Linked DNA regions of Homo sapiens. The protein of the gene in region 2 interacts with the protein of the main gene of each other region in a pairwise test. Each region holds a gene or a part of one and is shown on either strand. Other genes may lie near its edges. The genes, in order: IPO4, TCP11L1, LHX2 and PAX6.

The links.
Region 1: the proteins of TCP11L1 (region 2) and IPO4 interact in binary tests that used the Homo sapiens proteins (3 or more experiments, as listed by UniProt).
Region 3: the proteins of TCP11L1 (region 2) and LHX2 interact in binary tests that used the Homo sapiens proteins (3 or more experiments, as listed by UniProt).
Region 4: the proteins of TCP11L1 (region 2) and PAX6 interact in binary tests that used the Homo sapiens proteins (3 or more experiments, as listed by UniProt).

What each region holds. Positions count from the first base shown.
Region 1 is NC_000014.9:24,185,804-24,193,288, forward strand, and holds the start of IPO4 (importin-4), read right to left. Parts: upstream 3,014-7,485; 5' UTR 2,985-3,013; coding exon 2,916-2,984; intron 2,836-2,915; coding exon 2,749-2,835; intron 2,621-2,748; coding exon 2,541-2,620; intron 2,455-2,540; coding exon 2,413-2,454; intron 1,994-2,412; coding exon 1,864-1,993; intron 1,777-1,863; coding exon 1,597-1,776; intron 1,348-1,596; coding exon 1,282-1,347; intron 1,177-1,281; coding exon 1,075-1,176; intron 989-1,074; coding exon 905-988; intron 649-904; coding exon 484-648; intron 380-483; coding exon 326-379; intron 168-325; coding exon 58-167; intron 1-57. Other genes in the region: TM9SF1 (transmembrane 9 superfamily member 1 isoform a precursor), read right to left, coding at 3,612-4,005, 4,577-4,850, 6,368-6,553, 6,845-7,466. UniProt on the Homo sapiens protein: Nuclear transport receptor that mediates nuclear import of proteins, such as histones, RPS3A, TNP2 and VDR. Serves as receptor for nuclear localization signals (NLS) in cargo substrates.
Region 2 is NC_000011.10:33,056,551-33,063,571, forward strand, and holds part of TCP11L1 (T-complex protein 11-like protein 1), read left to right. Parts: intron 1-564; coding exon 565-685; intron 686-1,368; coding exon 1,369-1,589; intron 1,590-2,408; coding exon 2,409-2,545; intron 2,546-4,964; coding exon of another isoform or gene 4,965-4,979; coding exon 4,980-5,176; intron 5,177-7,021.
Region 3 is NC_000009.12:124,014,747-124,021,767, reverse strand, and holds part of LHX2 (LIM/homeobox protein Lhx2), read right to left. Parts: intron 6,647-7,021; coding exon 6,243-6,646; intron 670-6,242; coding exon 464-669; intron 1-463. UniProt on the Homo sapiens protein: Acts as a transcriptional activator. Stimulates the promoter of the alpha-glycoprotein gene. Transcriptional regulatory protein involved in the control of cell differentiation in developing lymphoid and neural cell types.
Region 4 is NC_000011.10:31,808,311-31,815,290, forward strand, and holds the start of PAX6 (paired box protein Pax-6), read right to left. Parts: upstream 3,013-6,980; 5' UTR 2,805-3,012; exon of another isoform or gene 2,706-2,804; 5' UTR 2,531-2,705; coding exon of another isoform or gene 2,518-2,530; intron 1,650-2,517; exon of another isoform or gene 1,596-1,649; intron 1-1,595. UniProt on the Homo sapiens protein: Transcription factor with important functions in the development of the eye, nose, central nervous system and pancreas. Required for the differentiation of pancreatic islet alpha cells.

The DNA.
Region 1 (7,485 bases), on a different chromosome or scaffold from region 2:
GGACAGCCATGGTCCTCCCTGTGGGCAACCCTCACCCTGGGACAGGGGAATACATACCTCTGCCTGATGTGGTCGCCAGCTCCGTCAGACAGCACGGCCAGCACCAGGAGTCCAGCTTTGCGCTGGTATGGGCTCTCGCTCCGCAAAGCCTCTTCCAACATGGGCATCTAGGGAAGCATGTGGCACGCTTCTGAAACCCCAGCAAGAGCCTGCCCATTCCTGTGGTAATAGGCCTTCACACCTCCCAGGGTCTAAACGTCGTTGGCCTCAGGGGGACTAGGCACACTTGGAGGTAGGGACACCAGAAGGACAGAGCCACACTTACCAGCTGGGGACAGAGCTTCTCGGGGGGCAGGTGTAGTGCCAGCATGTCCACAACCTGAGATGGGATGGGGAGACTTACTTTGCTTGACTCCATCTCTGCCTCCCCAACGTCCCACAGCCACCTAACACCTTCCCCCTCTGTCCTGCCCCACATCTCACTTGTACAGCGAAATGCTTGGGAGTCTCCCCCATCAGCTCAATCTCCAACTCTTCCTCTTCTGAATCCTGGTCCTCGGGATCCAACTGGCCTGGTGGGGGCTCAGCAGCCACAATGGGGAAAAGGGTGTGCAGCAAGGGTGGCAGGAGACGATTCTTCAGTAAGGCCTTGACAGAGAAGGTGGAACAGTGTCCCTAAGAATCTGCTCCCAGGATGGGCTCACATTAAAAATTCCAGTCTTCCAGGCCATAAGGGGTCTGACAGAAAATTCCCAACCTCCCAGGCAGGAGCTGGGGTGAGGCCAGGCCAAGGCTTGAACCCCCACAGTACTTTAGATACCCTGAGATGGACCGAAAGCCCCAGGAGTGAGACTAAGGGTGGAGATGGGGGTGGGGTGATGTGTGTCAATGGGCACTCACTTACCTTGCTCTTGACTTTGACCAAGAAAGTGAGGCAGCAGAGAATACGTATGCGTATCGCATTGCCCAGGGCCACATTTCTAGCTACCTGTCCACAGAATAATAAAAATCAGCGACAGGGAAGGAGAGTCCCAGCAGAGCATGTAGCAGGGGCCATGTCCACTCCAGGCTCACCTCCAGGCAGAATGTGAGGACTTCAGAGAGGTAGGGGGTGATGACCGGCACCTCTGACTCCAACAGTTCATCCAAAGCCTCAAGGGCCTCACAGGCCTTTGCCTGACAGACAAACAAGGCACAAGGTTACCATGCTCTTCTTCAGTGGGCCAAACTGGACACTTCTGCACTCTCCTTCCAACAGAGCTCCTGCCCACCTGTCCTCACCTCATCTATGGGGATCAGAGTCTGCATGGCCATGATCAGCTTGGGCACCAACATCCGAGCGAGAGGCTGAGGGACACATCACAGAGAGCATGATGCAGCCCAATCTCACACCCCAGCAGCTGGCAGCTTCCTCACAGCCTGAATTGCGAGGAGGAGCCCAGGCATAACAGCCAGGCCCACCTACAGCATCCCCTCTCAATTGTCAGGAAGGGCCACAGGCAGGTAAAGAATCCAAAGCAGCTTTGTAACTTTTACGGGTGAGGACATGAAGGCATGAGGAAAGGGAGTCAAAGATAACGAGGGCCCACATCTCACCACATCTTCAGTGCTGAGGTAGGGAGCCATGGTGGTCAGAGTGCGCAGGGAGTAGAAGAGCAGCCCAGGAGAGCCCACCTCACCAAGAGTCTCATTCAGAAGCCGAAGAAGCTCCCGGTGGTGGGGTTGGAAGGCCTCGGGCCGGGAGGTCACCACCACACTTAGCAGCAAAAGCCCCATCTGTCCAAGAATAGAGGATGGGAGAGCAAGCTTACAAGGTCTATCCAGCCTCTCAGGCCCTCCCTCCTGCCAACCATGTGATGGTACCTCTCTCTCTGGGCTGTGGGGGCTGTGGGTACTGTGCTGAAGCAGCTGCAAAAGCTGTGGCCAGGCCTCCAAGCCTTCCTTTCGAAAAATGGTGGCTGAGAGCTGGGCCAGGCTGAGGCTCACACAGTGCCTGCAAACAGGAGAGATCTCCTCCAATCACCCTTCAATACCTTCCTCTGCACACAGTGGCCAGGCTCAATGGGGCAGCCAGGACAGAAACTTTCAGGAGGTGTGGGCACAGGGTCTTTGCCAAGTTGGGACACATGAGACAGCAGCTCAGAGGGAGCCCAACAGCACTGTGGGCATGTAATCTGGTAAGTTCAGTCTAACTTAGCCTGAATTTCAGTCTTATTCTTCTGACTTGGGTTTGGCAGATCATCATCACCCTTCCTCAAGAACTTTAGTCTTCAAAACAGCCTTAAAATCCTCACTCCACCTTGCGTCTAGAACTGAAGTCCCTGCCCCACAAGTCCCAGCCTGGAGCCGAAAAGGAAGGCAGAAACCTAGACAAAGTCGTCAAGATCCCGAGAGAAGTGGGTAGGTACTTACTCTGTTTCTCTCTGCAGGGCCGTCAGGATCAGGGACTTGAGGCTGGAACACAGGTGGCAGGTGTTTGGTACCCAGCCTGCCCAAGAAAAGTCTCCGCCTGGCCCCGCCCCACCCCAGGCCCAGCCCACCTCTCCCGTTGCTCCGCCGCCAGCCGTCGCCAGCGGGTGTTCAGTCGTCTGCGGGTCAGCACGGCCGCAAACTGGCGGATCTAGGACGAGGAAGCAAGCACGTGGGGGTCCGGGCAGGAAGGTGCTGAGCGGACCGCAGTGGGCGAATACTGGGGCTTGACCGGTGGCGTACAGTGGGAAGCTCGGAGGGGAGAGTCAGGGGTCTCACCTGGGGGTCGGCCGCCGAGGCTAGCAGGTCGCAGAGAGCCGGCAAAGCGGCGGGGGCCCGAAGAACGATCTGGAGCTGTTCCGTGGCCTGGGGGGAAGCTAGGGGTGAGAGTTGGGCCTTTCCCGCAACCTCCCGCTCGCCCTGGCCCGGTTACGCCTGCTCCGTACCCGACGGATGCGCTCGGTGTCCGGTAGCAGCAGCTCCCGTAGGAGCTGCTCTAGCCCGGCTGACTCCATGGCAGCAACTGAGCCGCCGCTACTGGGCCGAAAAGGGGAGGGGGAGGGACAGCACGTGGAGGTTCTGACACCCACTTCCGGAGGAAAGGGCGTTGCTGCACGCCCCGCGGGTTGCCAAGGTGATTCAATTCGCTTCCCACAAAGAGGTCCGGCTCCTCCACTTCCGTTAGGCTGAGCACCGGCTGAATCGCGGAAACCCGACTCTGGCAATGTAGGTTCCCCACGCCGGGAGTTCCCAAGCTGGGTTGGAGAACTCGAGCTTCGGGCATTCAGTGGCCAGCTCGGCTTTATAAAGGACCGTGCCCTTAACAGCAGGGCTCGAGTTCCTATATCCAGACCAAAACCTCCAACTGCATGAGCCTTTTTCTTAATAAATTTTATTTTGGTAATTGTAAAAAGAAAAATCAGGACCAAAACTAAAGGCAACTTAAAAAGTTCAAATATATAATCCTTATGTGATAGAGATTTATAATTTCCAGGCCCTCTCTGGGGAAGGAATGCCCAAAGGGCAAAAGGGAAGGCAACAATGCCATCACACAATTCAGTCAATCAGAAGAGAAGCTGGTAGGAGAGTTCAACAGGGCATGAAGAAAGGGAGAGAACAGCAATAGTTCTGCCATACAGAACTCAGTCCATCTTGAGGTTAACATAGATATACCGGATGAACTTTAGGGAAGAAAAAAAGGAGATGGTGCCCAGCATGAGGAAGAAGACATAACCAGTGAGTAAGGAGTAGCCGAAGAACTCTACTGTCTGTACTGCCCCAGACATGTTGGAGCGCCGGGCATAATAGAAAACTGAGTAGAGGAAGATGAAGAGGCCGGTGGAGCCAACACTCAGCACAGATCGCCACCACCAGCGGTAATCCTCCCCAGACAACTGGAAGTAGGTGAGTGCAATGGAGATGCAAGCCCCCACACTCAGCAGGATGGCGAAGACAAAGAAGAGGATGCCGTACAAAGTGTACTGCTCCCGACCCCATACTGTGGCAAAGATGTAGTACAGCTCCACAGAGATGGCACTGTGAAGAAAAGAGATGATACACAGCATTAAAGGGCTGTGCACCATCAGCACAGTGGCTGGGCTGAAATCCAGCCCCCACCCTCTCCCATGTTGCTGGGTCATTGTGAAAAGTGAGTTCACTCCACTCTCTGCCCCAGATCTCCTGGCTTCATGGGGATTTTTTGCCTATGATTAGCCGCTCTCACTTCAAGAATATCTTCCCTAATAGATTGAGGGCAGGGATCTTGTCCATTTTATTCCACTTTATTCTTTGCCTGGCACAAAGAGGTATTCAACAAAGTAAATGGGTCATCAAATGGGCTTTAAACCCCACATGATGTCCATAGGCATTAAAGTCAGAAACCAGGAAGGTGAAGGGGGAAATGTCTCCGGAGAGCTTTATAAGTGAGACACTCTCATATCATTCAAGCTCAGTCCTGCTTGGGGATAGGAGGAACCATTTAATGATCTCTGAATGGTACCACTGAACCAGGGATCAACGGGTTGGGTTAGGGTACTGGATGAGTAGGGACAGGAAAAATTGAGGTCAGGAACCTGACAGTAATAGCCATGGAATAAAGGGAGGATACCTGAAAGGCAGGAAGCCTCCAACAGTCATGTGGATGACAGTAGACTTGTACCAGGGCTGGGGTGGAATCTCCCGGGCGATGTTCTTGGTGCGACAGGGTGCATCAAAGGGGCTGGCGTTGTTCTTCCCAAAGATGCCTCCAATGACAGTGAGGGGAAAGCCCACCAGCAGCCAAACCGTCAGAAGCAGCAGGATGGTTGTGGCTGGCAGAGCCTGTGTCGAACCATTGGCCCAATGCACTGAGTTCACCACACTCCACGTCAGGAAGAAAGGCACTGCAGGGATGGGCCCCCGGAGGGAGGGTCAACACTAGGAGCTACATCTCTAAGGGCACCCACTTACATCCAGGACCAAAAGGGGAGGGGGCTGAAGCAGCCTGCCACTCTAACGGCAGACTCATGCTCCTGGATGTCCCTGCAGAGTCGACTGCCTTCACCTCCACCCTTTCAGGTCCCATTATTCTTTGTTCTGTGTTTTTTTTTTTTTTTTTTTTTTTTTTTTGAGACAGAGTCTCGCTCTGTCGCCCAGGCTGGAGTGCAGTGGCGCGATCTCTGCTCACTGCAAGCTCCGCCTCCCAGGTTCATGCCATTCTCCTGCCTCAGCCTCCCGAGTGAGTAGCTAGGACTACAGGCGCCCGCCACCACGCCCGGCTAATTTTTTGTATTTTTAGTAGAGATGGGGTTTCACTGTGTTAGCCAGGATGGTCTCGATCTCCTGACCTGGTGATCTGCCTGCCTCAGCCTCCCAAAGTGCTGGGATTACAGGCATGAGCCACCACACCCGGACTCTTTGCTCTTTATCTTACCAACACCATCCCCCAACCCGGTGTCATTAAGGATCCAGGTAGCTACTACATAATCTGAGAGTAGCACAAATCCATCTGCCTCCAGGGGCCTGTCTTGCCTTGGAGTTGGTAATTCCTAGCATGAGACATTCCTTTGGATTAAGGCCCTGTTTTCAGAAAGCCTTGGTTCAAATATAAATGTGATGGGATAAAAATCAGACACACAGAATTGGGAACAAGAAGGGTTCAGAACAGAGACTACTACTGCCTTTGAAAGGGCAATCTGGTTTGAAAGCCTAGAGTGGGCCCACCTTCAAAATAAAAATTCAAGGGTGTTATTTTAGTGTAATGGGTGAGAATACAAGTCAGACTGCTGAAACCTAGTTCACTACTTTTTAGGAGTGTAATCTCAGACAAGTTACTTAAGCAGCCTTTAGTTCAGTTTCCTCATCTGTGGAATGGAAATATTACCTACTTCACACAGTTATTGCTGAGTGCTTTCCACACTGCCTAGGACATTTTGAGGGCTTAGTAATTTTAAACTATTCAAAAGAAATGCATTCTTGTTTTTTTTTGGTTTTCTTCTTTCTTTTACAATATTCCTTCCCTTCAAGCCTCATCCTGACTCTATCCCAAGTTCTATGATGTGTTCTTTTTTTTTTTTTGAGACAGTCTCACTCTGTCAGCCCAGCTAGAGTGCAGTGGTGCAATCATGGCTCACTGTAGCCTCAACCTCCCTGGCTCCCCAGGCTCAAGCAATCCTCCTGGGTCAGCCTCCCAAGTAGCTGGGATTACAGATGTGAACCACCATGCCCGGCTAATTTTTTGTTATAGAGAGAGGGTCTCACTATGTTGTCTAGGCTTGTCTCAAACTTTTGGGCTCAAGTGATCCTCCGGCCTCGGTCTCCCAAAGTGCTAGGATTACAGGTGTGAGCCACTGTGACCAGCCACAATGTGTTCTTCATTCCTAAGTCCAGAAAGGCCCACCAGGGAAAGGAAAGTCCTCACCAGAGAAGAGACTGGTGGTGAGAATGATGTTCCACACCCAACGCTCGCCTCCAATCTGCCGGTAGAAGTGGCTGGACACGTAGCCAGAGATGCAGCAGGTCAGGGCATACAACAAGATGGCTGCTGAGTTAATGGCCCCATGACGGTGCACATTGAACATGCCCAGCAGTGCCATGACAATAATGCCTGCAGGACGGTAGCGGAAAGCCCAAGTTAGGCCTCACCTGTGTCTCTTCTAGCAATTTCAGAGGAATCAGCCCCCCTTCTCCCAGACCCAGGGCCTCCAGCAAAACAATCTCCCCCAGTTTTGCTATCCAGAAAATCTACAATAGAATACGTGCATTCTTGCTAGAGCCACCCTATCCCTTAGGTCTGCCCCTCTGGATAGAAGAGAAGATCCACAGACCTTTTCTGAACAAACTCCCTACCTAGTTCTATCCCATGAGATAAATCCCCAATTCATTTTTATCACCTCACCAGTGCCAAGGGCCAGGAACTGGGCACCCACGCCAAGCACAGCACAGAGCAGACCACGGTATGGGGGGAAGCGGAAGACATCTGTATGGATAATTTTCCAGCCATTGTCACCCTGGTCAAAGTCATCACCAGAACCTGCAGAGGTGGTCTCCTCATCTAAGTTGTACCGAGCCAGGTCATTCCGAAGCACACGCATTAGAATGACAGCCACAAAACCCACCAGTAAAAACACAAGCACCATGGAGTTGATGATGGACAACCAATGGATTTCCAGTGTTCGAGGAAAGAAACCACCATCGTCACCACGGCGCCTGTCACTCCGACGCTCCACTGAAGTCTCAGACCAGCGCACGCTATAAGTGTGGGTAAGGCCTAGGAACTCGTCAGGTCGTAACCCATCCAAGCTGTGGGGCTTGACGTCCCGCACTGAAACATTGGCAAATATAATTCGGTCTCCATGGAATTCTAGGTGGAAGTCCAAATGGGTCCAGAGTCCTATCTTGTGGCTGTGTGGCAGGAAACCACTCTCCTCCATGTAGCCCACAAAGCCCCGGATTGGCAAGTCATCTACCACAAATTCAAAGTAGTACAGTTCTTCAATGGCCTGGCGCAGCTGCTCCACCTATAAAGAGCAAGTCAGG
Region 2 (7,021 bases):
GTTATCTTATTATTATTATTTTATTTTTTTGAGACAGAGTCTCGCTCTGTTGTCCAGGCTGGAGTGTAGTGGCACTATCTCGGCTCACTGCAACCTCTGGCCAGGCTGATCTCGAACTCCTCACCTCAGGTGAACTGCCTGCCTCGGCCTCCAAAAGTGCTGGGATTACAGGCGTAAGTCACAACGCCCAGCCTAAATTGTTATCTTAGACTACCTAATTATAAACATCTTAGGAAACTTACTAGTAACAGGGAACTAAAATTAACAGCTTTGAACTTTCCAATATTCTTATTATATGGCACTGTCATATGCTGTTTCTTGGATTAATGTTGGCTATCCAGTTAGTTGAGAGCGATTCTTTCCAATGAGATGCTTATTGCAAAAAATCACTAACTTTTAAAATAAAGTATGCCCTCAGTTGAAGTATGCCTGGGAAATCTTTCCTTGGTCCAAATCACTGGGATTGATCTTACCCTAAACCCATAGTATTTGTGCTTTTGAAAGTGATTTGAAACTCAAATATTTTGGTTTTTGCCCCCCTCCTTTTTTTTTTCACTGCCCCAGCTTGAAGAAGAGAGTAAAGGAGATTGTACATAAAGCGTTTTGGGATTGCTTGAGTGTGCAGCTAAGTGAAGATCCCCCAGCATATGACCATGCTATCAAACTTGTAGGAGAAATCAAAGAGGTGAGGCAAAGAGTGAATTGTGATGCTTTTCTGGTGTGTTAGGAGTGTTTATTCAACTTCTTGTGTCACCACCAGAAGACTTTAAAGAAATTGAAGGATCAAGAAGTTAAAGTACTTGCCAGAAGGTGGATCAAGAGTGTTTTTGGCTTAATGCCCTTTTTTAAAAAAAAGTTTTAAGCAAACCATGATAACCTGAAGGCATTTAAGACAACAAAGTTATTTCACAAAATCTAGTTTATTTATAAATTTTAATAGGTGTGGACACATTCCATTTATAATGGCCAAAAAGTGACTCAGCCTTTGGGACAGAGAAAGCTTTAGGTGGAGGGACTGTTTTTGCAGCGCCTTTAGCAGTAGCATCAAAGAAGAAATGTATGCATGGAAATTGTCATCAGCTATGGTTGGCTCACAGGCTCACATTAATAAACATGCTTTTCTTTTTTCACCATTAACAGTTTTTTCTTCTATCCATTTAATTGCTACCTAGGGCTTAAATGGAAGCTTAAGTAGCTATTGTAAATGATTTGTAAACATGTTTTTCTGTAGGTTTGTTGAATAAGAAGTAAAATATGTGCAATATTACGTAGCAATTGAGAAGCCCTTATTTGGATAGTTATAAATTACATATAATTAGAAATGATGTCTAAAGAATTTTGATTAAACGTAGCTGTGTTCTCTTGTAGACTCTCTTATCTTTCTTGCTGCCTGGTCATACTAGACTGAGAAACCAGATAACAGAAGTCTTGGATCTGGATCTGATAAAGCAGGAAGCAGAGAATGGGGCGCTAGACATTTCCAAGCTGGCAGAATTCATTATTGGCATGATGGGGACACTGTGTGCACCTGCTCGAGATGAGGAAGTTAAGAAACTAAAGGACATTAAGGAAATAGTGCCCCTTTTCAGGTATGGAAATATGTTAATCATACTCCGTGCAACTACAATTCAGAGGCATTTTCTTTTTTTTCTTTTCTTTTTTTTTTGAGACAGAGTCTCACTCTGTTGCAAAGGCTGGAGTGCAATGGCGTGATCTTGGTTCACTGCAACCTCCACCTCCTGGATTCAAGCAATTGTCGTGCCTCAGCCTCCTGAGTAGCTGGGATTATAGGCACGCACCACCGTGCCCAGCTAATTTTTGTATTTTTAGTAAAGATGGTGTTTCACTACGTTGGCCAGGCTGGTCTCGAACTCCTGACCTCACGTGATTGGCTGCCTTGGCCTCCCAAAGTGCTGGGATTACAGGCGTGAGCCACTGTGCCCAGACCAGAACTATTTTCAATTTAAACTTCCTGAAGTCTTGGTACTCATGGATTTAAAAAAAAAAAAAAAATTTGTAAAATGCAGAAAAGTAAAAAGAAGACATTTACTCATAATTTTACCTCTCAGAGGCATAATCACTCTTATCATTTTGATACATAGATATATTTTTTATACATTAATTTCCTTCAACATTTTCTTTTGAAAAATTCCAAACCTACAGAAAAGTTACAAAAACAGTACAATCAACACTCACAAGCCCTTCATGTGGATCCATCAGTTTTTATCATGTTGTCACATTTGCTATGCTGCCCAGGCTGGTCTGGAACTCCTGGGCTCAAGCAGTCCTCCCGCCTTGGCCTCCCAAAGTGTTGGGATTACAGGTGTGAGCCACGCGTCTGGTCCTCTTTTCCTTTAATGCTATGTTTACTTTACAAATGCTTGCTTCTAAATCCTTTTTTCTTTCAGAGAAATTTTTTCTGTGTTGGACCTAATGAAAGTGGACATGGCCAACTTTGCTATCAGTAGCATCAGGCCTCATCTCATGCAGCAGTCAGTTGAATACGAAAGGAAGAAGTTTCAAGAGATTTTGGAGAGGCAACCAAGTATGTTGAATATTTTGTGGTACTTTTTTTGTTGTCTGTGGTTTTTCATTTTAGCTGCCATAGCTTGTTGCATAATATTATTTTCAGAACAAAACTAAAATTTAGTAGGAGAATAGTCTAATTTGAAGAAGGAAAAGCACAAAATGTTGGGACTACATCTAGAGTTGTTAAGCATTGAAAAGAAAACTTAATTCACAAGCAAAAGGAATGTGAGTAGGCTATGAGAATAGAAATTAAAAACAATGAATTCCTAAATTATAAATGGTTTTTTGATGAAAACACCAGTTTGAAGTAAAATACATTCTTGGTCTTGATTTTTGAAAACATGACAGACATCCTGTGAATGTTAATTCACTTTTCTTCTCCCTGTGTGGCACAGCAGGAAATTTAACTTTGCTTTTGTTCTGGATGCATAAATCTTCTTGTTTCATACCCAGGAAGAGTCTCATTTTTATGAACCTCTCCGATGACTGCAGAAAACAGACGACTCTCAGAATCTAAAACTACGTTGTATTTCTAGGGTGCTTTTTATGGTCTCTGCATTGCTAACTGACATTCTGGGTAAATTTCAGTCTTCAGATTCAATGTATGATGAATTCCATTTGGCCTCTAACTTTGCTGACGAGGAGATGAAAACAGCAGTCTCTGGGTTGGTTGGGTTGCCTGACCAGATTAGTTAAGTGAATGCCCCATGCAGTTGATTCATCCAGCCCCAGGCAGAGGAGTCTGAGGTAGTGCTGGGGCCGGGGCAGGTTGAGAAAGGACAGGGTAGAGGTAGAAGTAGAAGAAGTTTGGTAATGTTTACTAAGTGCCAGGCTTGTGCCAAGGGCTGGATGTACATGATCATATGTAATCCTCACACAGTAAGCTGATGAGCCAGGCACCTTTTTTTTAATCCCATTTTACAGATGTTGGAAACAGGTTTTGGGAGATTTTTGACCAGAATGGATTGACCACAAGCTCACACTCTCACCAGTGTTGTGAGAGTACTGGGAAGAGTTTTTTCTTGTTGTTGTTGTTGTTTTCTTTGAGATAGAGTCTCCTCACTCTGTCACCCAGGCTGGAGTGCAGTGGCACGATCTCTGCTCACTGCAACCTCCGCTAGGCAGAGTTTTGTAGCCTGAAGAGCCGTAATATTAAGGCCTGGACCTGGAAGCTGGGGCATAGTGGAGGACTCACTGGTAGGGTGGAAGCAGCTACAGTGCCTGCATCTAGCACTTAACTCACAACATGAAAGCCTGGGTTTCCCAAAGCTGGGGGGTTACGGAGAATATTATCAGCAGAAGAGAGGGTGAAGCCAGATGGCCCAGGAGTCATGACCGAGAGCTCAGGGTAAACTGGAGCTGCATCCCCCTGCCCCAGTGAAGAGCAAACCACAGCTGTGACCTTGGCCGCCCACTTGGTTTTAAGGAAGCAGGAAGCCTCCACTAACAGAGCTGCAACACCTGCTGGGACCTGACAGGTGCAGTTTTTATCAGATGATGTGTGAGATCCTCCAGCTCTCTCTCTGTATCCCTCAGAGTGCCCCCTGCATTACCAAGCTTAGAAAAGCAGGGGTGCAGGAGGGCTGCTGAAAGCCAGATGGGGCTTCCCTGACAGAGTTCACTTTCCCCCAGGTTGAAAGGAAGCCAGATTGATACAAGGTTAAGATCTAAACAAGGAAAAGCCTCATCATCAGTGTAGAGGATACTTTACACAGGGAAACTCTAGCTGGTGTCTCATCCTATCTGTCTCTAGAGCTGGAGTTGCCAGGGCTTTGGGGTCCATCTCATGCAGTGGTCAGGATGGGAGAGAAGGGAAGGAAGGTTTGTTAAATACCAGGTGGGTGGCAAGGCCTGGCTAGGTGTCATGTATTTGTTACTATTATTATTATTATTTTAGACAGGGTCTAGCTCTGTCCCCCAGGCTGGAGTACAGTGGTGTGATCACCACTCACTGCAACTTTAACCTCCAGGACTCAAGTGATTCTCCTGCCTCAGCCTCCCAGCTAGCTGGGGCTACAGGCATGTGCCACCATGCCCAGCTAATTTTTGTATCTTTTGTAGAGACAGAGCCTTGCCACATTGCCCAGGCTGGTCTCGAACTCCTGGGCTCAAGCAGTCTTCCCACCTCAGCCTCCCAAAGTGCTGGGATTACAGGCATGAGCCACCATGCCTGGCTTATTCATTATCTTGTTTAATCCTCACAACAGCCTGTGAGGTGGGTGTTGTAAATTTGCCTATATCAGGCATCTGAAACTCAGACACATTATGACTTGCCTGAGATCCCTCAGTTAGTCATTGGCACTACTATGATTTGATCCAAGTTTTATTTGATTCCAAAGTTCATACTTTATACTTTATCACTCCACCAGGACATCGATTGTCCCTTAAGTAATTCCGAGAAGCATCCCTTCTTGGTGTCAAGGTAATGTGTGCAGCTTTGTTTTTCACAGATTCCCTGGACTTTGTCACCCAGTGGCTGGAAGAAGCCTCAGAGGACCTTATGACTCAGAAGTATAAACACGCCCTGCCAGTGGGGGGAATGGCTGCTGGCTCTGGGGACATGCCCAGGCTGAGCCCTGTTGCTGTCCAGAATTACGCTTACCTGAAGCTTCTGAAGTGGGACCACCTCCAGAGGCCGTTCCCCGAAGTAGGTCTCCTGAGCCATCTCACTACTCATATTTGTTTTTGTGCTGCTGAACTTTTTAAAAAGAATAGCTTTGGCCAGGCACGGTGGCTCACTCCTGTAATCCCAGCACTTTGGGAGGCAGAGGCAGGCAGATTGCTTGAGGTCAGGAGTTCAAGACTTGCCTGGGCAACATGGCAAAACACCCTCTGTACTAAAAATACAAAAAATTAGCTGGGCGTGGTAGCAGGGGCCTGTAGCCCCAGCTACTTGGGAGGCTGAGGCAGAGAATTGCTTGAACCTGGGAGGCGGAGCTTGCAGTGAGCCAAGATTGCACCACTGCACTCCAGCCTGGGCGACAGAGCGAGACTCTGTCTCAAAAAATAAAAATAAATAAGTAAATAAATAAAATAAAAAATAAAAAGAATAGCTTTATTCTGATATAATTCATGTACCAGAAGATTCTCCCTTTTAAAGTGTACAACTCAGTGTTTTCTAGTATAGTCACAGAGTTACGCATCCATTGCCACTGTTTAATTGAGAACATTTTCATCACCTCCAATAGAAACGCTGCATCCATCAGCGGTCACTGCCCTCCCCCCCTCCCTCCAACGCCTGAAGCCACAGATCTGCTTTCTGTCTCTATGGATTTGCCTATCCTGGACATTTTATTTAAATGAAATCATACACTACCAGCCTTTTGTGCCTGGCTTCTTTCACCAATGTTTTTTCACGTTGTAGCACATATAGCAGTAGTTTAGTCCTCTTTTCCACTGTGTTTTTTTTGTTGTTGTGGTAAAATACACATAACATAAAATTTACCATTTTAACCATTTCTAGTTGTCCAGTTCAGTGGCATTAAGTGCATCCACATTGTTGTGCAACCATTGCCACCAGCCACCTCCAAAACATTTTCATTTTTCCTTCTGTGAAACTGTCTTCCCACCAAACACACCAAACAGTAATTCCCATTGCCCCCGCCCTCTGGCCCCTGGCAGCCACCATTCTACTTTGAGTCTCTGTGAATTGGACTAATCCGGGTACTTAATATGAGTGGAATTATACAATCTTTGTCCTTTTGGGTCTGGCTTATTTTACTTAGCATAATGTCTTCAAGGTTCATTTATGTTGTAGTATGTGTCAGTGTTCCCTTTCTGGGTTTTTTAAAATTTTTTTAAATTTTAGAGACAGGGTCTCATTGAATTGCTCAGGCTAGGTGGTACGACAGCTCACTGTAACTTTGAACTTCAGGGCCCAAGTGATCCTCCTGCCTCAGCCTCCTGGGTAGCTAGGACTACAAGAGTGTACCACCACCCCCAGCTAATTTTTAAGTGTGTTTTTTGTGGAGACAGGGGTCTCGCTATGTTACTCAGGCTGATCTTAAACTCCTGGCCTCAAGTGGTCCTCCCTCCTTGGCCTCCCAGTGTTGGGATTACAGGCATGAGCTACCATGCCCAGCCCTCCTTTCTTTTTTAGGCTGAATAATATATTTTACTGTATGGATGTACCACATTTTGTTTATTCATTCATCAGTTGACAAACATTTGGGTTGTTATTATAAATTATGCTTCTGTGAATATTCCAGTACAAGTTTTTGCATGGACATATGTTTTTACCTCTCTTGGTTACGTACCTAGGATTAGAATTGCTGGGTTACATGGTGACTCTTAAGTTTAACATTTTGAGGAACTGCCAAACTGATTTCCAAAGCAGCTGCATCATTTTACCATCCCACCAGCAATGTATGAGGCTCCAGTCTGTGCTGCTGAATTTTTCTCCTGTTTTTACTCATCTTGATGGAAACCACAACAGAGGTGTGGTTGTTCACAGCTTTATCTAAAGAAACTTCTTCCCCTTCCATGCTGAACA
Region 3 (7,021 bases), on a different chromosome or scaffold from region 2:
GAAACTAGAGTGGGTAAGAAGCAAGAAGCAGGAGCTAATGATAGTCACCTTGGGTGTACGTCCTGGGATGGGGTGGGGCGGCCTCTAGATTTATCTGAAATGTTTGAACCTTTTATGATGTGAATGTGTGTAAAATGAGTGTCACTTGAATAATAAACAGAAACTAAGAATTGTTTAGAAGAAAGAAAAGAGACCGAGTGTGGAGACAATGAGGATGGAGCGATACGCAAACAGAAAAACAGAGAGGCAAAAACTGAAAAAGAGAAAAGACAAAGTAAGAAAAAAAAGACTGAAATACAGATGGGGACAGGCTGGAGAGGTGAAGAAAGAGAATGAGAAAGATTAAACACACAGAGAAGCAGACACAGGGTGGAAGGTCCTTCCAAGGCCCACGGCGAGGGGTGCAGGGTTCCACCCCAGTCCCTGGTGGTCGCAGATGCCCTCACCCCTGGCCCTGGCTGACCTGGAGGACCCGCTTGGTGAGGCCCGTCTTTTGCGCGAGCTGCTTCAAGTCCTTGGCGTCGGGGTTGTGGTTAATGGCAAAGTAAGACTTCATGGTCCGAAGCTGGTGGTGCTTGAAGGACGTGCGCATGCGCTTGGTCTTCTGGCTGCTCGGGTATGGCTGGTCACGGTCCAGGTGCTCTGCGTCGTTTTCGTTGCAGCTTAGCGCTAGGGAGGAGACACAGAGCCGGTGGGTGAACTTCCTGACCCGCCCCCCATGCCAAATCCACACTCGCCCCACCCACTGCCAAACATTTCAATCCTTAACCCTGCTGCATGTCTGCGCCACAATGAAAGGGGGACATCATCCCCATTTTATAGATGGAAACACTGAGGCTCAGAGACAGCGATCCACCCAGGATCACACTGCTAAGAACTGCAGCACTGAATCCCGGCTCTGGGAGAATCCAAAAATCATTCTGAGCCATTATGTTACAATAAGAACAATAGTAGCAGCAGCAGCAGCAGCAGCAACAACAGCTACGACTTGTTGATGGCCGATTGAACTCCAGGTGATGTGTTAAAGGGCTTTCCAGGCACATTTTCTTTAGGTACTTAAAACAATCCTAGGAGCACCAGGTATTATTTTTCCCGTTTTTACAGATGTTGAAACTGAGGCTCAGCAAGGGAAGTCACTTGACTTTGGACACAGCAGGACAGGGTCTCTGGGCCTGCCCTCCTCCTGTTTTCCAAGGCACTCTAAGGAGGAGTGCTTTCTGCCGTCTCCCCCTACCGTGTCTGGGACCGGCACCTAGAAACTGCTGAAACAGAGATTCATGTTCATTTTGCCACACCCAAAAGTACTGAGGGACCCCTGGGCCTTGGGCACTGGGCCAAAGGTTGGAAACTGCATTTTGCAGTTTAATCCTCATCGCTACCCTGTAAGATGATTGTTTCTCCGTGAACAAGTGGAGCAAATTAGGCTCGGGGAAGTTCAGAGATCTGCGGCAGTCCACAGAGAGCGGCAGAGTGGACGGGGAAGGAAGTCCGAGGCAGAAATAAACATGTAGTAGACACCTATGGTGTGTGTTTGGCTTTACAAATGTCACTGTACATCATTACCTCTCAGAGAGGTGGCTATGACTATTCCCATTTTAGAGATGTGGAAACTAACGCTAAGGGAAATGAAGCCACTTGCACACTGCCACACCACCGGTAACCAGCTAGATTGATCTTGATCTGTTGAGCCTAGATTTAGCACTGGAGTACTCCTTGTTTTCTTCCACTACACCACGAAGGGAGGAGGGAGCCTGTCCCTAACCACAAGGAGCCTCATGGGGGCCACGCTGCCAATGCCTGGCTGGCATTGGGGGTGGGGAATATGGGTGAAAACCTGGGCCTCAGAAAATTGCTCAGCCACCTGGAAGCTGATGGGGACCTGCAGGACCCCTCCCAAGGTCGCCTCCTCATGGCACCTCCCGAGCCATGCCACACTTAAGGTCTTGCCTTGGGGTAAGCCTCATAAGGGGTGTACATTCGGTCCGCCTAAAGTGAGAACTGAGAAGGTATCTTGTGCCCTCATCACATACCCGTAACAGAGCTCTAGATTTAGCAAATGAAAATACAGGTTGCCCAGTTAAATATAAATTTCAGAAAAATAATAAGTAATTTTTTAGTATAAGCATGTCCTAAATATTGCATGGGACATACCTATACTAAAAATGTATTTGTTGTTTACCTGAAATTCAAATACTACAGGTGACACAGCTATGCTAAAAAATTGTCATTTATCTAAAATTCAAATATTACACGGGACACTTATACTACAAATTTCAAATTTATTCGTTATTTTTCCAAAATGCAAATATTGCCGGGGACACTTACACTAAAAATGTATTTGTTACGTACCCAAAATTCCAATTTAACTGGGGATGCTGCATTTTGCCTGGCCACACTACCTCCAAAGGACTTTTACTCTGCTGGTGACCTCCCCCTTCCCCTGCCCAGATGGGGAAGAGCCCCTTGCAGAGAGAATTTGCAAGATACAAGTCTTGCCCCTGCCTTTGGAGCTGTTAGCTAGGGGCTACACCTCCTAGGGGCCTCTTTCCACCGGCACTCAGGTCCCCTCACCCCCGGGGCTGCATTCCCACAGAGAGCACGCCCAGAGTGAAGAGCGCGGGTCCGGCAATTTAAAGGGGATCAGAGGATGCCTCTGAACCTGATCCACCAGAACTGCTTGGAACCCGCTGAGGTGAGCAACCCTTTTCTTTCCCCCAGTCCCCAGCTCCACTGGGGGTGGGGCAGCCTCCCTACGGGGTATCTTTGGGCCCATCCCTCCACCGAGCCCCCGCCTGGGCCTGGCTGCTGTTAATGAGCTCCGTGGGGACCCCGGCGCCCCCATGGGCCCAAGGGACCTGCCCTGAGTGCCGCCTAGGTGGGGTAGTAGTGCGGGGGAGGGGGACAGAAAGGGCAGAGAAAGGAGAGAAAAAGACAAACACAGAAAGGCAGAATGGAGGGAGAGAAAGAGAGAGGGGGTAGGGACGGAAGATGGACAGAGCCAGGAAAAAGAGAGGACAGACAGAGGAAAAGAAAGCGAAGGAGCCAGGAGAACCACAGAGAGACAGCTACAAAGACAGCAAGAAATAGGGAGAGCGGAGGGGAAAGCGAGTCCCGGAAACAGGCGCAGCTTGTGGCGAGGGTCCGGTGGCCGAGCTGAATCCCGGGGCTCCGGGAGACCCGGTCCCTGCGGGGGAGGCCTTTTCCGAAGCCGTTATTGGCGGGGGAGTAGAGAAAAGGGGAAAGAAGGGGAGTGGAGAAAAAGGGAAAGGAGCCGGCCCTAAGTAGCGAGGCCGAGGCCGGCCAGAGGCAAGGGCAGGGGGCGGCGGCGGGGGAGGCAGCCGTGGGGCCCAGGTTTGGCCGGCGCCCCGAACCCCCTCACTCCCGCCCCCAGTGCCCGGGGGCGGGTCGAGATTCCCCAGGATCGGATCCGGGGAGGAGCGAGGGGCCGAGGGGAGGGGGAGGACCCGGGCTTTCTCTCTCCTTTTTTTTTTTTTTCCTCTCAATTAGGCCGATTCAATGGAGCTAAAGAGCTCGTAAAATCATGAATAATTTACTCGTGATCTGTTATTAACCCATCGGGTTTCGAGCTCTTGTCGCTGGGACTGAACCTGTAATCAAATCTGACTTCGCCTCATTTTACTAAAGACGAGATTGTAGGTTCAATTGTCTAAATAATGGATTGGAATCAAATCAGTAATTACGCCGCCAGGCACACACACACAAAAAGCTGGGGCTGGGGGAGGCCGGGCGTCCGGCCGGTCCGCGCGGGACTCCCGCGGCCGCGGCGCGCAAACCCAGGCGCAAAGTGCGCGGCCCGGGCCCCTCGCCCGCTCCTGCCGCCGTTTTCGCACCCCCAGCCCGCTGGCAGCCCCTCCCGGGGTAGGGGGAGGTTTCCGTTCCACCGGGGCCCGGGCCCGAGGGGCTGCGGGAAGAGGCCGCTGCGGCCCCGCCCCGGAAGGACTTTCCGACCCCGCGGCCCGCGGCTCTGCTGTAAGCCCAGCGCCCGGCGCCCCGACGGCGCCCCCTCCCCACTCGGCCCCCAGCTCGCCGCCCTTCAGTAAGGTGCCGCCGCGCCTCGGAGGGACTGTCCCCAGAGCAAGAGGCTTTGCAAGGGGTCGTCGTGGCTGGGCCACAGGATGTGGGACACTGCCACAAACAAGCTCGTGTCCCCGTGGTCGGAACCCTGCACGCACACGCACACGACCCGCGCCCGCACACCCCGTCCGCGATCGCACCCTCCAGGGTCCCCGCTTTCCAGTCCTAGCTGCCCCGCGGCCCACACTGCGGCCATTTCTCTCCTGCCAGTGCGGGAGGGGAGGGAAGGGCGGACGCCAGATCTAGGAAGACTGGGCTGGGCCCCGAGAGGCCGGGGAGATGCCCTCTTTCCCCAACCTAGTCCCGGGAGCCCCGAAAGAGCCAGCCGCATAGCCACCGCCGGCGCACCGAACGCCGTTTCTCTCAGGACTAGGAGCCCCGGCCAAGGTCGGAGAGGAGGGCACGGGAACAAACACGACACACACAGAGACAGAGATAGAGAGAAAGGACGGAGAGAACGGAAAGGAAAAAAAGAGAGAGGGAGGCCAGAGAGAAAGTGAGATGGCTGAATGGAGGGTGTCTCTTGTAGAGGTTAAACAAGGCTTGAAATTCAGCCTCCAGCCCACCTCGCTGGGGCAAACGGCGGCTGAACAGCAAAAAGCAGAAATAAATCTCTGTACCTTCTACTCTCTTTTTGCACAATCCTAAAACCGGCGCCGAACCTCCGTGCCCAGGAAAACAATACAGCTCCCCAGCCACCAGGTGCCCTGGAGCCGAGCCCCGCGAGGTGCTTCCGAGTGGAAGTTGACCCACTTGATAAATAGAAGCGGCTTGGTGTTGGGGGAGCCGGTCTGAACTCGGTTTTGTCTTTTTTTGGGGGGTGGTAGGAGAGGAGGGATGGAAGTTCCAGAGAGCTACATCTGTGGTAGTGCCTTCAGCAAATCTTAAATCCGCGCCACCGACCGGCCTACCGCTGCTTCACCATTTACCAAACTGGGGGCTGCGTTTTCCTCCCAGTTCCGCACACAGGGACACACGCCCCATGATCCTCCAAGCGATTTCGTTGGAGCGAACACCCGCCCCTCATTTCCCTCTCTATTCAACTCAGATTCTTTAAGATGAAAATAACTGACTTCTTCCCGCCGTAGCACCCTCTGCACAGTCTTGGGTTTGTTTTTGTTTTTGCTTTTTTCTGCTTGTGCATTAGACTAAAGGGAAAAGGAAGAAGAACACAAAATCTCCAAATCTAATTCTGTTGCAAACGAAAGAAAGAAAATAATTGCACATAAACTCTAGTTCGGAAGCCCGGAGAGTCATAAACCTTTCCGGGCCTTGCAGACTTCGGGCAGATGTTGACGGCTCATTTGCCGGAACTCAGAACCTCTGCAGCTGTCCTGAGCAGGGAGGGGCGCGGGAGGGGGCAGAGCTTCTCCGGGAATGGCCTGGGGTTCAAAGATGCCGGAAATCCGAACCAAGCCCCCCACCTCACCCCACCCCACCCCACCCCGGCGCGAGGCCAGGCCTGCTCCGGTCTCGTCCCCGCCCGGGGGGCTCGCTTCCGAGGGTCACGGCCCTCACCCCAGCAGGCGCCAGGAAACTCGGAGGAAAAAGTCCGGGAAAACTGAGACCTGTCTTTAAAGGAGGATCGGGCCGAGCAAAAGGAACCGCAGCCTTTGCTTTCCTGAGTTCCCCAAGCCCGAGTTCCCCAAGCCTGCCGCCCTTGGGACATTTCACGAGGTCAGGCCGCACTCCAGGCCGAGCTCGGCGCCCCGGGCCACAGCCAGCCCTTTCTCTTGGGACCCTCGCCGCCCTGCCTCGTTCCTTCGCTGCCCCAGTTCCCGGCCCTCAGCCGCGCCAACCCAAAACCTGTTTGGCGTCAGCGCCGCCTTGCTTTCTCCATCCCTGCCACTTCCTGCCTAGCAAAGTGGGGCAAAGGCCCAAACCAAAAAGCCATCTCCAAAAAAACAATTTATCAGAGACAAGGCCCTGCACCCGGAGCAGCAAGGGACCACTGCACCCTCTCCTCCCGCTCCAGCCGAGGACGCACAGTCTGGAAGCCCAGGGGGCTAATGTCCCTTCTGCGAGGCCGTCCGGTGCTTAAGGCTCGCTATTTGCCCAGCACACAGAGATTCAATCCAGCTCCCGGCCGTCGAGGCCGCACACTTTCCCCCAACCCTATGGGGGCGCTTCGTGCGCCGCGCACTCACCAGCGTTGTAGGCCGCCAGATCCGCACCGGGGCCCGGGCTCTTACGTTTCCTCGGCCGCCCCTTCTGCACAGTGCCCACGCCATTGTAGTAGGGAAGACCCAGAGGGTTGGCCCCTGCTGCGCCCAGCCCCGCGCTCTTGGCCGCCGCGGCTGCAGCGGCCGCCGCTGCCACGTCGGCATGGTTGAAGTGTGCGGGGTACTCGCCCTGCAGCAGCGCCTCGAAGTGCAAGCGGCAGTAGACCAGGCTGTCCTTCATGCCGAAGTGGTCGCCCGTGGTCAGCATCTTGTTACACGTGGTGCACGTGAAGCAGTTGAGGTGATAAACCAAGTCCCGAGCGCGCATCACCATCTCCGAGGCCGAGATGCCCAGGTGGCAGCGGGCGCAGCGCTGCACAGAGAAGCGCCTGTAGGGACCATGGAGGGAGGGGCTGTGGGAACACACGGTTGGGTACCCCCCTTTTCCTCCTCCAGGTGCCGCTGCTGCTGCGGGGGGCAATCCCCTCCTCAAGACGAACAACCCGGCCTTTATTTGGAGGATGGGGGGGAGAGAGAACTAGATTTTGACCCAGGCCTGGTCCTGTCCTAAAATAGTTTCCCTTAACACACTTATGCCTACAGAGACTTCTACTTCACCCAGAGTCTCCGCAAGCCCTAGGAAAGCCTTTACCTGGGAGTGGAGGGAGACACTTACCACTTACCCCCTCCTCAACCTTTACTCCTCCCTCCAAACCAGCGCCTGGGAATCCTACTGACTTTTATAATTTGGAAGAAACACAGAG
Region 4 (6,980 bases), 1.2 Mb from region 2:
GAGGACTTTTTCTCAGCATTGGGTAAATACTGGCCACAGCAGAGGGTTACTAGTTACCCTTATCTAGGTTGGCTCTCCAATGCTTCCTTCCTGTCTCTCAGTCCCGGCACCCATAGCCATGCCCTGGATAGGCAAAATCTCCAACTCTAATGCAAAATACCCCACCCCAACAAATGCAGGACCCTGAAGCTGCAAAGGAGTAGTAGGTGGGGAGATGGGGAATGGAATTCCCCTAGGAGGGGTAAAACTTCCAGAACTCCACTTTGTAACCCACGCTGTGCACAATCACAACAGAATGCTCCCATCCTGGCTTGTAACTTCTTGATACCATTTTTTTTTAAATTCAGTAGCTGAGCACAAAGAGGCCTCGTTGATTAGTTTTCGAAGCAGCTGGGAAGGTGGTAGTATTTCAAATTCCAGTTCTGCTCCATTCCCACTTCCCTCTCGCTAAGAAGCTATCTAATTACTTAAGTAAACGTGAACACTAAGTGCAGAAGCAACCCGGGAAGTGGGGCACATCGACACCCGGAAGCAGTCCTGTGCACCGGAGAGGTCAGACCCCCAACTGCAGCCTCAGCCCCCCAGCTCAGCCCGAGGCTCTGTACGGCCTCGCTGGGGCCATAGAACCACATCCTGAACGAAGGAGTCTCCAGACATTTTGGAGTCGCCCCAGCCTTGGACCACAAGAGAGTGGTCACTGCCCCCACCTCTCTGTCCCCAACACAAGCCTCAGTTTTCAAATGCTGTTCTTTTTTTAATTACTTAATTCTCAAATTCCATCCCCAAACTCTTTAACTGAGGTAAAGGGGAGAGCTCTCGGTCCTCCCGCCCCCAGCCAAAAGAGTAATTAGCAATTATGATGACAAAGTTTTACTCTCTAGGGCCAAATAAGATAACAACTAATCAAACTGCCTTCACGCTTTTGCAAAGGTCACTGGCTATAAAAAATGTAATGTCAACCGCAACAACTATTATTTCTCTTCAGTAAACTCGCCAGGCTCAAGCTCTTTGCCTTTCATTTCATTTTCTGCTCCCAGCCCCTTCTAAAACCTTCCCAAGTTCGAGTTAAACGTCCAGAATGGCTTAGGGAGCTTGGGAGAGTATAAGAAAAATAAAAAGGAAGAAAGAAAGAAACCACGTTCACTTTGTTTTTAAACTTTCTAGAAATCGCTCATGAATGAAGAGCCAGGTTTTAGCACTCGAAAAAGAAAGCATTTCCACTTGAAATTCAACTCCATTTCCCCCAATTACACTTGCTAAAATTCAGGGCTATTATGGCGCAGGGAGACTGAGAAAATCTGCACAAGGAAAGAGGCAACAACTTTATGAACTTTGAAAAGACACTTTTCCTCCTGGGATCTTAGAATCGAAAGCTCTCAAATTACTCCGACTAATTAGCCGGGAGAAGAAGTGATCAGACGAGGGGGAAGGCCAATGCTTTCATACAGATTTATTTTCAAGGCCTTACCAAGAAAAACATAAGGGGATTCGGAGTAAAACAAACAAAAAAGCAAACCAACTCTGCACCTCAAAACTTGCTGAAATCCCAACACCTGGTGAGACTGGATCAGAGGAAAACAAGGAAAAATACCCACCAAGCGCAGGGGGCCGGAGAACAGGGAAGAGCCCCAGCCTCCGCAAGGCAAGGGAGATGAGAGTCGGGGGAAGCCTGGGGAGCAGAGAGTTTTCAAGTTCCGAGCTCAGCGCTCCAGTGGAGTTGGGGGCAAGAGCCCGGGGGCTGGGTGGAAGCTGACAGTCCTCCCGCTCGGCTCTGAGCTCCCTCGGAGCGCGCGTTCCACCGCCTTGGCCTGGTGGCTTCCTTCCCGGCTCGCGCTAGCTCGCTCTTCCCTCTACCTCCAGCGTGCGGCTGCCTTGCCGACTGACTCCACTCGGGCTGGTGGCGGGCGCGGTGCCCCCCTCGGCGCTCGAGTGCCGGCTGACTCTTCTGCGCCGGAGCCCAGTGCGGCACAAAGCCCGAGGGCCGGCGGGCGGGCGGAGACGCGGCGAGCAGGTTCCCTCGGCGCTCCCTCGGCGAGTCCTCGGAGCGCCCGCTCTCTGCGCGTTCGCTGGGCCTCGGGCTGGACAAAGCAGCCGGCAGCGGTTGCTCTCTGCGGCCGTTCCAGGGCCTTGGGCACCACAGAGCCTCTTCGTCTTTTCCCGCGGGTCGGGAGCATTGGGCGACGCTGGGGCTAGGAGCCGCGGCTGCTGTCGCGCCTGGAGTCTCCCTTCTTCCCGCGAGCTCAGCCCGCGCTGGCGCTGGCGCTGGCGCTGGGGCTGAGCTGGCCGCCCGCCCCGAGCCCTGCGCCGCTCCCGCTCGCCGGCAGTCGCCCTCCGACGCGGGCTTTCGCTGGAAGTAGAAAGTTTGGGCTCCTGCGTGGAAACTTCTCCGGCCCAACTCTCCCGGCGTAGCAGTGGGGGAGGGGACCGGCGAGAGGGGAGGAAGGAAGGGGGGAGGAAGGGGGAGACCTGTCTGAATATTGCAATAAAAATAAAGCGAGAAGAAAGAAGCGGACTCACCTTTATGAGGCATCCTTTCTGGTTGTCACAGCTTCTGTCAAGAGTTTTGTTTGGTTGGGGTTTTTTGTGCTGCTGTTGTTGCTTGAAGACCACAATGGTTTGAAATGACGGTGTTTTAAAGGAGTTGCTGGTGAGAGTTTTCTCCACGGATGTTGCTGGGTTGGTGTGTGAGAGCAATTCTCAGATTCCTGGGAAGGAGACAGAGATTGACAATAAAATGGGCTGTCAGCGGCTGGAGAGTGAGAGATAAAGAGTGTGGGTGAGGGAAGTGGCTGCAGCCAGCACACCTATGCTGATTGGTGATGGCTCAAGTGTGTTAATGTGTGTGTGCCGGCGCCCGGCCTCGCCTCCACCGCTCCTCACTGGCCCATTAGCGAAGCCTGACCTCTGTCATCATCCTCCAGCAAAACACTTCCTCCTGCGCCTGAACCAGAGCGGGAAATGAGGCCGAGCCACGGTTCCCTTTTCAAACCCACTAATCACTCCGCAACATGCAAATGCACCGCTCGCTCTCACACAAAATATTGCTTTATGCAAAGCAGCGCCGGGGCCTCGCGCCAGCCGATTGGATGCTCCCTCTCCCCGCCTGGTGCAATTGGTCCGTTTGTTTGAATATGAATACACTTGTTTTCGGCTCCGCCGGTGGGTCCCGGCTCCTCTCCCCGGCGCAGGGCCCCCGAGCCCGGGCTCTGGCGCTCGCCTGCATCTCCCCGCTCCGCGCACGCCGAGATTCGGCGCGGCCCGCCCTGCTGCCGCGAACTTGAGCGGTCAAGTGAAGGTTTCTGGGTTGGGGGTCGCGCCCCCACTCCCCCTAAGCTGGACTCGGGACTCCCAGTCCTCGGAGGGTGCAAGTTTCTGTGCTGTCCTTTCTTGCCAACTCCAGGACAGCGTGGCCTGCCGCCCCGCCCCCGCCCGCCCCCACCCCATCCCAGCCGGGGCCCCAAGACACAGAGCACAGCGGCGGCCGCACCCCAGCCCACCTGGCCCCTTGGAAGAAGAGGAAAGGGGCGGGAGCGTCACTGGGTCCTGGCAGCTCCATTCCAGCTGCGGAGGCCGCGGCGAAGCCTAGGCCGAGAGGAGGTTGCCGGGCCGAGAACTAAACGAGGCCAGAGGCCTCCCCAGCCCAAGCCTCCAGGGCCTGTCCAAATCCTCCACCCCGCTCTCCCCGCCCTTTCTTCTCTCCTTTCTCCTTTCGGAAGCCGCGGTGCGCAGCGGAGCAGAGGCACAGCTCTGGCTGGAGAGGCCCGAGTAAACACGCCACTTACTTTGTGTACAGAGGGTTCTTGTGAAAAGCCCTGAAGAGTCCTCACCAAACACTCACCAACTTCTCCCACGTGCCATTTGTTGACTAAGTGCGGCTGCTTTTCGCAGCGCCCGAGAGGAGGGGAAGCCAGGGGAGATAAGAGGGGAGGGGGAGTGGAAGCCTGGGTGGGGGGGCGGATGACCAATGCTGGGAGGGATTCTCTCTCTCTCTCTGTGTGTGTGTGTGTGTGTGTGTGTGTGTGTGTGTGTGTCCCACTGGCGATGTCGGTATGTCAGCGTGTGTCGTGTGTGCCACCGGTCATCTGTGTGTGGTGCGTGTGTCTCCGCACCACGACTCCCTCTCCTGGGTCTGCTCAGTCCACGGAGGCAGCTCCCCTTCAGCTGTTGCCAGAAAACCGGGGAGGAAAGTAAGTAAATGGCTTTTCTCTTCTGACCACACACCAGAAGTCCATTTGTTGAATGCCGCACGATTAGGACACACCTCAGTACACTCCAAAGGCGCCCCTCGGAGCCTGCAGTTAAGGTGACAGGAGAGCGAGCGGCTGCCTGGTCCTGCGCTGTCCCGAGCTCTCTCGGCGGCTTCGGGCCACGGAGCCGGGAAGGAGAAGGAAGGCCTGGGCTGCTGTACACACCCCAGGACAGGGCGAGGGGGAATAGGGCTGAAGAGCTGAGGCAGGGAGGCTGAAATGAAGCAGCCGAAGGGTACGCTAGACTCTTCTTGACTTAGGGAAAGTGCTGAAAGTCAGAGCTCATCAATAAAATCTGCGCGACCTGAACTCGCTGCTGACTGGCCGCGTCGCCGCAGCCCCTGGCAGCCGGGACAGTGAGGACGCTGCAAGCCGCCCTGGGCCGCCGGGCCACATGTGGGCCTCACCCTCTCGTTCCTGCCTGGGACCCAGCAGCCCTGCGACCAAGGAGCCCGGGCAGGGCTCCCGGGAAGCAAAGGCCTCCCCGGCCCTAGCCAGAGGTGGGGTCGCATAACCCTCTCCCCTCCCCGGGCTGGGGAGGGCTGCCGGCTCTAACCCTTCCCCGGGAGCTCGCAGCGCCGGGAGGAAACCTGGGTCAGAGGTGAAGGAGGTGGCGCCGGGTGTCCAGGTCCGCGGCCTCCTGGGCGAGGTTTCATTTCGCAGGAGCGCGACTTTCGGAGGATGCCGGCAAGTGGGGCCGCGGCCCTGAGTCCCAGACCAGCGAAAGTCGGCTTTCTCTTTCTCTCTCCTTTTACTTTCCAAGCGAGCATTAAAGAAGCTTGGACTCAAGACTCAAGTCCGCTGTGCATGAGCGAGGGACTTGCGGGGGGGCGGGGGGGGGGGAAGTGATTCTGTCCGAACTGGAGGCGAGTATCATTTTTACAACCTCTCAATTAGCGACCGAGTGGATTAGCACCTTCTTAAGCTTTGCCTCGGAAAGAAGCAGCCGTAATCTTGTTGCTATTTCCCCCCAGGGCACTGGCTCTTTGAATCAGCTCCTTCTCCCACCCCTCCAACCCCCATCTCGCTGCGGAGAAAAGTTTTAACAAAAAATCAGAAAAGGCAAGGAGCGAGGAGTGAATGCCACTGACGTCATTGGGTGGGGAAGGGGGCTCCGGGAAAGACTCCTGGAAACTCCTCCGCACAAACAAAAAACAAAAAGGACTTGGCTGCTTCCCATGTGTCAATATTTGGGGAGGGGAGTTCAACCCCAGAATGAGGCCGAGTTTTCAAAGTTTAAGGAGAGAGGGGTGAGAGTGAGATTTCCTCGTTCTCTCTGGACTGGTCTCAAGGAAGGTGGGGGTGCTGTTCTACCTCGTGGGGAGCCTCACTCCCTCTGCCAAGTACCGGCTCTGGGGGCGAAGCGGCCTAGGGGTGTGGGGGCCGAGACTGAGGTGCGGGCGCGGTTGCCAGAGGTGTGTACAAAACCGAGACAACTCGCAGGTCGCCATTTTAATTGCGGCTACCAACACGCCCGAGGCCCACTTGCTGCCCTCCAAGACGCGGGGGGGCGGCGGGGATTGCGCTTTAGGTTCTGTCTCCTTTCCCCGCCTCCCCACAGGCCCCTGTTCCCCCCTACCCTCCGCCCCCTGTGGCCAGAGGGAGGACCTCTCAGGCCGGCGGGTGCGTTCCCGCGGGGGCCGCCGGGGTCGTCCCACCCGGTAGCGGGGCTGTCTGCGTGGAGGGAGTCCCGCTGGGGGACCGTGGCTCGCCAGAGCCTGCCCAGAGCTTCTAGCCAGTATTGATGCGTCAACATGAGGTGAGGCAAGCATCTCACCCGCACCGATCCCTGGCATTCCCCTGTGCCCACCCCATCAGGCCTTCGGGGAGGCAAAGAAGTGCCCACTTCTGGGGGGAAGTGCCTCCAGCTCCCAGCTTCAGAACCAAGAGCCTCCCATCCGGAGTTCTGACAGTTCTGACACCTCCAAACTCTCTCTTTCCCCGGTCAAGCAGAGGCGCAGCGCCGGCGCGCTGGAAAGGGTGAAGACTGGCATTTTTTGGAGAAGGAAAGTCTTGGCAGACACCTGCGTCACTTTGTAGTGCCCCAAACGTCTCTCTTTTTGCAGACCCTGGGAAGGTGGGATCCCTTGTCCGCGGAGCTGGCAAACGGGTCCAGTGAGCCCTAAAGGCAAAGGCTCCCATCCCGGCCGCCCAGTCCCTGGTGCCTCCCCCACTTCCAGGCCTTTGTCCCTCTCCTTTCTCCAGCAACCTGCCGGTTCCCGCTAACCCGGCAGCCTCGCCGAGCCCAGAGCCTAGAAAAGCCAAGAAGATCCCAGAGCCGCCCCGTGGCACCTTCAGGCTGTGGCCACTGCTCGGCTTGGGGGGAAGCCGCGGTGCCCTCGCCCTTCCTCGCCTCCTGCCAAATGGCCAGTGCTAGGGGCTCCCTGGGTTCAGTCCTCAGTCCTCTTCCGTTCGCTCTGGGAGGCCAGCCTGTCTCTCTCTCTCTCTCTCTCTCTCTCTCTCTCTCTCTCTTTCTCTCTCTGTCTTCTCCCTGCCCACCCCCAAAATACCTTTAAAATAACATTGTCCAGTGGAGTCTCCCAGCAAAGGGATTCCTAGCAGCCCAGCGGGTCAGACTCCCAAGGCTTTGCCTCCCAGTCCCTCCATGCTGTTGTCCAGATAGGAGTTAGGTTTAAAACTCCTGACATGTAGGACAACTGAAATCAGCGGCACTCTCCGATTTTTGCAAATAGGGTTCCTAGAAAAGTTTGCTTTCCATTTCATCACCCTGTG